2 separate regions of the Homo sapiens genome follow, and region 1 is linked to region 2. Evidence: fine-mapped expression QTL. A gene starts in region 2. The other region holds a variant in brackets. All regions are shown on one strand. Distances are between the middles of the regions. Region 1 has its middle 44 kb from the start of NXT2. Region 2 holds the start of KCNE5 (potassium voltage-gated channel subfamily E regulatory subunit 5).

Evidence for each region. PIP is the estimated chance that this variant, and not a neighbour inherited with it, causes the effect. A credible set is the group of variants that fine-mapping cannot tell apart.
Region 1: its variant is the best candidate, but not a certain one, in a credible set for the expression of KCNE5 in monocytes (TOPMed, PIP 0.55).

What each region holds. Positions count from the first base shown.
Region 1 is chrX:109,578,134-109,583,512 of GRCh38, forward strand. No RefSeq gene overlaps it. Among named protein-coding and RNA genes, the nearest start is that of NXT2, 44 kb to the left of the region's middle. The variant T/A (reference allele first, on the strand shown) is at 3,085.
Region 2 is chrX:109,621,985-109,627,363 of GRCh38, forward strand. It overlaps KCNE5 (potassium voltage-gated channel subfamily E regulatory subunit 5), which reads right to left and starts at 3,188. Exons shown (of 1, transcript NM_012282.4): 1 at 1,716-3,188. The coding sequence starts at 3,036. The coding sequence ends at 2,608.

The sequences.
Region 1 (5,379 bases), 44 kb before region 2:
GGAATAGATGATGTCCGCTTACAGTGGTGAGGGTGGATCCACTTTAGTCAGTTTACTGATTCAAATGCTAATCTCTTCCAGAAACACCCTCAAAGACACTCCCAGAACCAATGTTTTATCAGCTATCTGGATATTTCTTAACCCAGTCAAGTTGACACATAAAATTAACCATCACACTTACCATGGCCTACAAGGCCCTGCGTAATGTGGCCCCTGCTTGTCTCTGCATCATAATCTTTCTCTCTTACTCTGCTTTAGCCACACTGGGCTTACTGCTCTTTTTTTAATATACTGAGCCCAGTTGCTCCTCAGGGTCTTTGCATTTGCTCCAACCTCTGCCTAAACGTTTTGACCAGCTCCTTGAATGGCTGACTTCTCGACTTTGAGAGCTTAGCTAAAATTTCTATGTCCTCAGAGAAACCTTCTCTGACCACTCTGGCTAAAGTAACCTATCAAGTATTCATGGTTACAGCACCCTGTTTCTTTCTTCAGAAGAAGTATCACAATTCATAATTACATATTTGTTTATTAGTGTAACCCAGCAGTTGCATGCACATCAGACTCCTTCCAGATTATGTAGGCTCAGTTCACAACTTTGAAAATTTTGCTCTTACTCAGAGCCTTGAATACTCTCATATTTAGAGGATGATGGGAAATTTTGCTTGGCTGTTTCCATTAAGGAGTCTTTTAGCCAGCACCATGTCCATAGCACATGCACTCCTAGAAGTCCCCCTTTTTACCTCCCTCTTGTCTTCCTTTTTAACCCCTTTCCCCTCATTTCATCATGCAATTATATCCTGTGCTTGAAATAGTCCCATTTTTACTCCCTCTTCAACTTCTGTGAAAAGATAACAGTTTTGAGATAGGAAGTTATAGTTTTATTTTTTCCTCATTTCCCCTATTTCCCTTCTCTGTTTATTTAAGCAAGTAGTCAACCTTATGCCCCTATGTTTCAGGGAAAAAATGGGTCAGAGTGCTTTTCCTGACTCCCATTATTATGTCAGGCTGCCAGGGAAATCTTCAACTTAGAATTCGCCTTTCAATTTAGCCAACTGCAGCTGAGGCTGTCATCCCACATTGAGCTGCTTCCAACACAAGGCAGTTTAGGCTTCCCTCTGAATGTCAAGAAATAATGAGTAAAGCTAGTGGCATCCTCTTGCCAGTGTGAGGTGACAGAATTCCACCAGTGTATTACATAGGATCCTTGGGATCTCTTCCAAAAAGTCTTCTTCATGGAAAATATTTTCCAGTGAATGCATCCAGTCCATTTGAAAATTTTTTTCTTGAATATCCTTGATTATTTAGAGCCAAACAGCAACCAGTTAACTAGTTCTAGCATTTGCTCTATTCCCCAAAGCACTGCCCTTAGCACTCTGGAACTTTATTTCTTAGGCTATAATATCTGCTGCTATACTATATCTAAGGGACACCATAGTATCCTACAAATGGACTGTTCATTAGTGATAGTTTTTGCCATTCCCATGAGAACTTTCTTATGCCAGTAGAGTAAGTTCACATATTCTTTACCACCAACAAGGCTACTTCTTTCCTTCCCACTACTGAATACAACTCAAATATTATCCACTGAGCTTTGCACTAATTCTCTATCCTCATTTGGTGAAATAGTGGTCAGTTTAGGATTAAAGATTTCATGGCTGAAACTTTTAGCAAAGCCTTTCAAGATAGTATCTGTGTGTAGTATAAAGGCCATATTTGAATCCTCAAAAGGCTAAAATGTCCATTGACTAGTTGGTCTGTCGGCATCATGCAGTCTGCCCACACCTAGAATTTTTACACCTGTACAAATCAATTGTACACAGGAACTGGGGCAATGTGGCAGAAACTGATAGTTACCACCCTCACTCCCACCCCACCTTCTGAATATATCCACTCTTCACTTCTTTCTTTAAATATAGAAACCTTAAGTTTTACTTGTCTTCTCAGATGAAGACTACATTTCCCAACCTCCCTTGCACCTAGGTTAAGGTCATGTTACTGGAATGAAGGCAGAGGTGATGTATTCAAACTTCTGAAAAGCAGCTTTAAGAGGAAGAGATATATGGATATGACGGTAAGAGCTGGAGAAGCCATCTTAGATCACAGGAGGGAAACTGTGTCTTAGAACACTTTATCTCCATTTCCCCTCATTTTGACTTTTGTTTCTGTCATCATGCACTGTTAATTTGACATATACTTGGAATCTCACAAGATATTATTTTTATGGTTTTATAAGTTGATATTAATTTGGATTTATCATTTTCATTACTATTTATCCTTCCTGCATTTCTGTTTCCATTTAGGAAAATTTTCCTTCTATCAAAGAATAGCCTTTACTATTTTTGTTGTTGCTATTGTTGAGATAGAGTCTCACTCTGTCGCCCAAGCTGGAGTGTAGTGATCTCGGCTCGCTGCAACCTCCTCCTCCCAGGTTCAAGTGATCCTCCCGCCTCAGCCTCCCTAGTAGCTGAGACTACAGGCACGTGCCACCATGCCTGGCTAACTTTTGTATTTTTAGTAGAGACAGGGTTTCACCATGTTGGCCAGGCTGGTCTCTAACTCCTGACCTCAGGTGATCCACCTGCCTTGGCCTCCCAAAGTGCTGGGATTACAGGCATGAGCCAATGCACCCGGCCCTAGTATTTCTTTTAGCCTGGATCTGCTAGTGACAAATTCCCTCGGGTTTTGTTTGTTTGGAGAAGTCTTTATTTTACCTTCCTTTTTAAAGAGTATTTGACTATATATATTATAGAATTCAAGGTTGGCAGTTATTTTTCAGTACTAAAGGTAGCACTTTGTCTTCTGGCTTCCATTATTTCTTTTGAGAAGTCAGCCAATATCTTATTATTGCTCCTTTGAATGTAATGTGTCTTTTTTCCTCTAGATGCTTTAAAATTTTTTTTTAGTTTTCAGAAATTTGAATATGATGTACCTAGGTTTGATCCAGATTCTCACCCTTTTGCTGTACAGCAAGAGTTAGCAAATGCCTTAAGAGTTAAAGCAGTGGGTCAGGTTTCTGTGGTCGCCTTTTCTCTAACTTCTTGGATTCTCAAAACCTGACTATTTTGACAGCTTTTGATGCCTCCA[T/A]ATAGATTGCTTTTCTAGTAGTTCCAGTTGACTCACTCATTTAAATCAGACGTGCTGGATCTGAACACATCTGTGCCCACTACCTCAATGACGCCCGCTGTCACTTTCAAGAACTTCAGGCTGAATCACCTTCTGCCAGATATGGAAGACTCTATACTCACCGCAATGTTCAATCTTGTCTGCTCCTCTAAGGGACTGTCGGCTCACACGATAACCAAAACATAATAGTTATTGGAGACTCACTCTATGGCTCATCTTGGCACAAACCTTCCACCGTTCCACCACACCAGTGGTTCTCAACCCTGGCTGTACATTAGAATCATCTGGAAAGCTGTTTAAACATATCAATGGTGGACTCCTTTCAAAGACTCTGAATTAATTGGTCTAGGCTGAATATCCTCACCTGTGGTCCCACTGGCCTCAGGGAGAAAGACCGCAGTTGTGGGGAAGAAGTTGGACTGCACCTGAGGAATTGTACCCATTATTTCTTTTTTCATTTTTCTTCTTTTTTTGAGACAAGGTCTTACTCTGTTGTTGAGGCTGGAGTGCAGTGGCATGATCATGGGTCACTGTGGCCTGTATAAAATAATAAAACAAATGTCTCATTTTGGTTTTATAAAAAGAAGCAAATTGCAAATCAGGAGACTGTGATCAATTAAAGTGTTCTAAGGTCTTTCTGTTGATTGGGATGGGGTGAAAATATTACCTAATTTTAGCCTTTTTTGAGGTAAATATGCCTGGTAAAATTTTGGAACTAACCACTAAAAGAACAGAAATTGAATATAAATTCCAAACCAATAGAGGAAAAAATAATTTTAAATGAACAATAATAGCAATAAAATCAATCCCTCTGAACAAGGTGAGAGGAGAAAAGGAAGGATGAACATAAAAAATTACAGCTCAAATACTTGGATAACCACAATAAATACAAATGGACTTAATTCACTAGGTAAAAGAGATTGTCAAACTGAATTTAATTTTTTAAATGCAGTTATGTGCTATTTGCAAAAGACCCATCTGAACTAAAATAACACGGAAAAGTTGAAGATTAAACAGCTAGGAAAATATATACCAAACAAATACTAACAAAAAGAAAACTGGAATTGCTATGTTAATATTCAAAAAACTAGACACTAGGACAAGAAGCAGTATTAGGGATACAGGGGACCACTACATAATTATAAAAGATTAAATTCACTAGGAAGATATAGCAATCCGAAACCTATTCATATATCAAATTAAGTAGTTTTGAAATATATGAAACAAAATTGATAAAATTACAGGAAGAAATGGACAAATCCACCATCAAAGTGGAAAATTTCGTGCTACCTCTCTCAATTATTAATTCAAAAAGACAAAGAATCAGTAAAGATATAAGATTTGAAGAACACAATTAACAAGGTTAATATCATAAACATATATTAAACACATGAATTTTTTAAAAATTATGTACAAGACATTTTCAACAACCCCCAAAATAAGTATCATACAGATCACATTCTTTGACCATCAAACTATTCATTTAGAAATCAATAACAATAGAAAAACATCTCCCATTAATTTGGAAAATGTTTTTATTCTAGATAATTCATAGATCAAAGAACAAACGTCTTTAGATTTTAGAGAAATATACATCAAAGCCACAATGAGATGCCACTTCATACCCATTAGTATGACTATAATAAAGAAAAGACACAATAACAAGTGATAGTGAAAATGTGGAGAAATTAGAAGCCTCATACATTGCTATTTCTGCAGGAAGTTTGGAAAAGGGTTTGGCAATTTCTCCAAGTGTCATGATAGAGTTACCATATGACTCAGTAATACCAATCTTAGGTGTATGCGTAGGAGAATTGAAAACATGTCCACAAAAATACTTACACACAAATGTTCATAGCAGCATTATTCATTTAACAGCATAAGGTTCAAAATAACCCAAATGTCTATCAACTAATGAATAAATAAATTAAATATTGTATATCCATATATTGGGATATTATTTAGCCATAAAAAGAAATTAAATCATGGCTCTAAGTCTTATTTTGGACCACAGCATCTTATCGGTACCAATATGTAAGTGCTGCCTATAACCAGTGAAGGACCCTTGATATATCTTATCAAGCTCAGCCCGTGTGTGTGTGCGTGTATGTGTGTGTGTTTATGTATAAACACACACACATGTATCTCACAGCTAATTGGAGGAGAGAGGGGTAGAGCCAGTATGCTTACTAAATCATATTAATATTTAGGATCAACACATTCAGATTCAGTAACTATTCAAACCCTGAGCTTTCA
Region 2 (5,379 bases):
CGCCTGTAATCCCAACATTTTGGGAGGCCAAGGTGCGCAGATCACTTGAGGTCAGGAGTTTGAGACCAGCCTGGCCAACATGATGAATCCCCGTCTCTACTAAAAAAAAAAAAAAAAAAAAATTAGCCAGCGTGGTGGCGCAGGCTTTAGCCCTGCTACTCGGGAGGCTGAGGCAAGAGGATCGCTTGAACCTGGGAGGCAGAGGTTGCAGTGAGCCAAGATCACGACACTGCACTCCAGCCTGGGTGACAGAGCAAGACTCCGTCTCAATTTAAAAAATTAATAATAATAACCTTGAGTCCCCATTATGCCAGATAAATGAGTGACATTGTTTTACTTAGAATACAGGACTGAAGACCGCCCCGTCACATGTCCTCAGCATTGCTGTATATTGTGCCCTTCCTCCACATCCTCCCCAGGCCTCCCTGCCTGGCTGAAATGGCTCACACAGCTTCCCTTCTCTTTCTGTCATCGTCTTGGACTGCTGCCCAATCCCTGGCCCTCACCTTCAGGGGTGACCTTATGGCTGGAACGAGGACTGGAGAAGAGCCAATGGGGCAAGGCCAGTATAGCTTCAATGAGTGAATCCTGGAAATAAAAGTAAGTTCACTTAACTTATTAACAGTTCCAATAAAATGCTAGATGGGCTGGAAGGTAAGACCCAATGCCTTGAATGAGGTTTGTGTGTTATCAATGCATTTAAGTGACTGGTAATATATTTGTCCTGCTATCATTATCAGAGAACCCAGCTATATTTAAGCAAATTGGCTTACTTCTAAGAGGTGATTTTATGTGTGGTTGATGAAGCCCAAACAGCCATCATCAGATATAAGCATTTCAGCTGTAAGCAGGGAAGTTTCTGACAACCTTCTTGAGACAAGGAGAATAAATCAATACAACACACACCTCTAACTTTACCCATCATTGGTTAAGATTGCTCAGTTCAAGAATTTTCTCTTTGACTTCAGATTTACACTATTTGGTGGCTTCCTTGTCTTTTAATAAGCCACTTCAAAAAAGTTATTGGCTAGGTGCAGTGGCTCACACCTGTAATCCCAGCACTTTGGGAGGCCGAGACAGGCGGATCACTTGAGGTCAGGAGTTTGAGAACCTCCTGGCCAACATGGTGAAACCCCCCGTCTCTACTAAAAATACAAAAATTAACTGGGCATGATGGGGCACATCTGTAATCCCAGCTACTCAGGAGGCTACTTGGGAGGCTGAGGCAGGAGAATCGCTTGAACCCAGGAGGCAGAGGCTTCAGTAAGCCTTGATTGTGCCACTGTACTCCAGCCTGGGTGACACAGTGAGACTCTGTCTCAAAAAAAGTAAAATAAAAACAATTATTAAGGTGGCTTCTAAAAATTAGGTTTGATAATAGCTAAAAGGGATGGGCCTTAAAGGTTTTTTAAAGTGCATCCTGAAAGACTGCATTGTGATCTTTGAAAGTGCTTCAGAAATAAGAAAAAAGGAGGGATAAGTAATAAAGTAGGTATAACTTTTGAAACACTTGAAAAAACAACCCATTTAGCCATATAAACATTTTCTTCACCCATAATCACACATATCAAATTGGAACTGGTTACATAGATATAAATATCACAACCACCCAACCCCCAAATCCAAACATCATTTCCAAAAGCAAAAGAAAAAGGATTCCTTCTCCATATGGTACTGGGTCTTAAGGCTGGAATCTCTGAGAGAAGAGTCTTGCGTTATTGTTTAAACAACCTTTATTACCTGCCTCTGACATTCCCCAGGGTTACAGAGCAGGGGGCATCTGAGCCTCAAGTTCCACGGATGAAGCAGACACTGCAATAACAACTGAATCAATAGAGGAGAGGCATTTGGAAGTACTGGGGTGATACACCCAGTAATGGTAATCCTCAGCAGAAGATGGCATAGCTACCAAAAATCAGGCGTTACCACTGGGATGAAAACTGGGGAGGCAAGAAAATCATACGGTTGGAGTCATAGATCATTTCCCTCCCCGTTGAGCACTCCTCCCCCTTCCGTCCCCCATTAAGTTCATTCTATCCCACAGACTGGTCCTAGTGTCCTGCTAGCTCCCTGCTGAAAGAGAGAGGGAGGGAAAAGATGTCTGAGGTCTCTTCATTTCCTTTGTCTCTGTCCCTAAGGCAACTGGAAGCTGGAGCTGCTGCAGTCGGCCTGGCAAGCCCGTTGGCTCTGCAGAGTGAGCAGTCCCTGGCAGCCCCTGGAGCAGCTGCCAGTTAGACGGCCCAGAGTTCTGATAGAATGCATTGCTTCAGTTCAGTGCCAAGTGTTGGACGTGTTGGATTCAGTTCCCAGAGGGCTGGAGCGTGCTGTCAGGGCTGTCTGAAGACAAGAGAGCAGAGGCAGTTTAGTGCAGTTGGATGTGCGGGGTAGGGGTGGAGGCGCAGGGGTGAAGAGGGAGAAACTGGCCCGAATGGGTAAGGTGGTGCTTCTCCTTCCAGGGCCTTCCAGACAAGGTCTCCTGGCCTCTCACCATTATCTGGGCCTCAGATGAGGCGAACCCTGGAAGGGAGTTGGGGGTGGAAGGTGGGAGGCGCGCCCAGGGATGAGCGAGATGAGGAGGGCGCGAACCAGCAATCTGGGGCTGTGGTTTTAGACCCGCTCAGCGCCCTGGGCGAGGGCAGGCAGCCCCTCGGAGGCAAGCTGGCGGCGGCCCTCGGCCTGGGAGCCCGCGGCAGCCTCGGCGTCGGCGGTCAGGGCGCCTCCCGGGGCCCATTCGTGCTCGGCGCAAGCCTGGGACGGCTCGTCCTTGGCCTCGACGAGCTTACGGGAGCGGGTGTAGGCCAGGATGAGGCCTCCGGCCAAGCAGGCGTAGAAGATCATGATGAGCAGGATGTAGAGATAGGCGTCGTCGCCCTTGGCGCTGGTCACCTCGCGGCCCACGAAAGGGTCAGGCACGACCCCCATGCCCATGCTGGGACGAGGGCCAGCGCCCAAGCCGCTGGCATTACCCCGGTGGTGCAGCTCGAGCAACAGGCGGCTCAGAAGGGTTCGCAGCCGCTGGCTCTCGCTGCAGTTCATGGCTTTCGGGGAGTGACACGGCGGCTCCAGGACGCTGCTGACCTTTCCCCCTGGGCGAGGGGAAGCGAGCTAGCGAGCGGGCCGGCCGGCGGGCAGGGCTCAGCAGCGGAAACAGCGGTAGCACCCAGCTCTCCGGCGAGCGCGCAGTGGCTGGGGGCGCCGACGGCGGGGCCTCCTTATTCCCTCACTCCCGCCCCTCCTCCCCTTCCCCACCACGCCCCCTCCGGCCCGCGGCCGCCTCTTCCCAGGCTCTGGCTGTCTCGCTGCTCCAGGGAAAGGGGACAGCTGGTGGGGGGAGGAGAAGGGGACAAGAGTGGGGGCGAGGCTGGGAGACGGGCGGAGGGGGCGGGGGCTCGGAATGCGCGAGGCCCCAGGCAGCAGACGCTGGCAGGGCAGCTTGCTGGGGCCAAGCCTGGACCCTGGGCTGCGGAAGAGAATTCCTTCCAAGTTCTGGCCACCTGCCCTGCAGGCCAGGCTTTGGCCCAGATACAGCATTTGGCCCCCTAAGGCAGCTCTGCCTTGGGGCGCTCAAGGGAGAGGGCAGACGCCTTTCCGCAGCAGAGACCCCTTGTCCACATTTTATGGAAGTTACTCCCATATACAGGGACCCAGGCCTATCTTTCTAGTCCTCATTCCTTTCCTTTTCCCCCCGCCCCCCTTTTCACCCCCCTCCCACCTTGTCGGAGGAGAGCATCTTATTCAGAAGATGCTCAGGCTGAATTTGGTGACTGAGTGCTCAGGCACCTGCTAGAAGGCCAAGGCAGAGTAGAACTCCCTGGTTATCCAAAATGGTTTCTGGTGATATAAGTGATATTACACCTTCTTGGAAGCACCCCTGCTCTGATGTCCTATGACACTTTTTGAAAAGTCAACACATCTTAGCACATGAATGTACTATTCATAATGGGAGCCTGTTTCCCATGGGTAAGTAAGCCATCTTCCCAGAAGTGAAACCAAGTTCTTCCAATAAGAGTAGCATGCACATTTTAAAAGGCCCTTTGACTACACTCTGTGGATATCTCGGGATCTGAAAAGTGCCAGTTCTAGAGAATATGCTCACCCTACTCCCAGTTAGGCCAGCAAACAGCTGTGTGCCTCTCTAGACTTGGTAACAGGTCTAGGCCCTAATGGCTTTTAGGGCAGCCATTTTTTTCTCAAAGGCTGTCTTTTTTTAGGGGAAAACAAGGCACCAAGACAAAGATCAGGCCAGATATGTTAAATTGGAAACAGACTGAGCTTCACAAAGGAAAAGGGTTGGTTTGTAGATGGTGGGGTAGAAAAAATGAGGTAGTGCTGGCTAGGTCTGGTTGTCCATAGTTGCCAAATGAGAGCAGAAAGCAAGAAAAGTGTATGACCTTAGGCACACCTTGAAAATAATGCTGCCTGTTCAAGACCGTTCAGTCCAGGGACCATTCAATCTATAGGTGCCATGGGTTAAAAAAGGAAGGTTTTCCGATGCCTCTTCCCCAACCGTTCTTCAGCCCACCATCCACCCAGGGGCTGTAGCCTTCTGTGTGTTCAGGTGAGGTTGGCACCAAACTGTATCCAGGGTCTCAAACAGAGCCTTGCTTCACAGCCTCTAAACAGGCCTCAGAGACATTCCACATGACCCTGACACTGGCTCCCTTCTAATCACCTTGCCTCAATATTCTCACCTCAGAGGGCCTCAGGAAAGAATTGTTAAAGCAACTTGGCAGGATGAATGCCAGAGGACACAGCCAGAGAATTTTCAAAGCACTGCTAACCTAGTGATATGACTGTTGAGCTAAAAAGACTTCTCTTATCTGTTAAAACAGGAGTCCCCAACCTCCCAGGCTGCTGGACCTTGGCCTGTTAGGAACCAGCCGCACAGAAAGAGGTGAGCAGAGGGCAAGTGAGCATTATCGCCTGAGCTACACCTCCTGTCAGATCAGCAGTGGCATTAGAGTCTCAGAAGAGCTCAAACCGTATTGTGAACTGCGCATGCCATGGATCTACAATTGCATGCTCTTTATGAGAATCTAATGCCTGATGATCTGAAGTGAAACAGTTTCATCCTGAAACTATCCACCCCTCCCCAGTGTCCATGAAAAAAATTGTCTTCCACAAAACCAGTCTCTGGTGCCAAAAAGGTTGAGGACTGCTGTGTTAACATATACCTAGAAATAGCTAGGGTTTTTTTTTTTTTTTTTGAGAGGAAAGGAGGAAGAAACCCCTTTACTGTAACATACAAATAATCATTTAAACTTGTTTTCTAATTTCAACAGCCTTATGAGCTAATAGGATTCTCATTTTCCAAAGAGGAAACTGAGGTTCAGACTGGTTAAGTAGCAGGACTGGAATTATAAAGTTTGACCTTCTTCT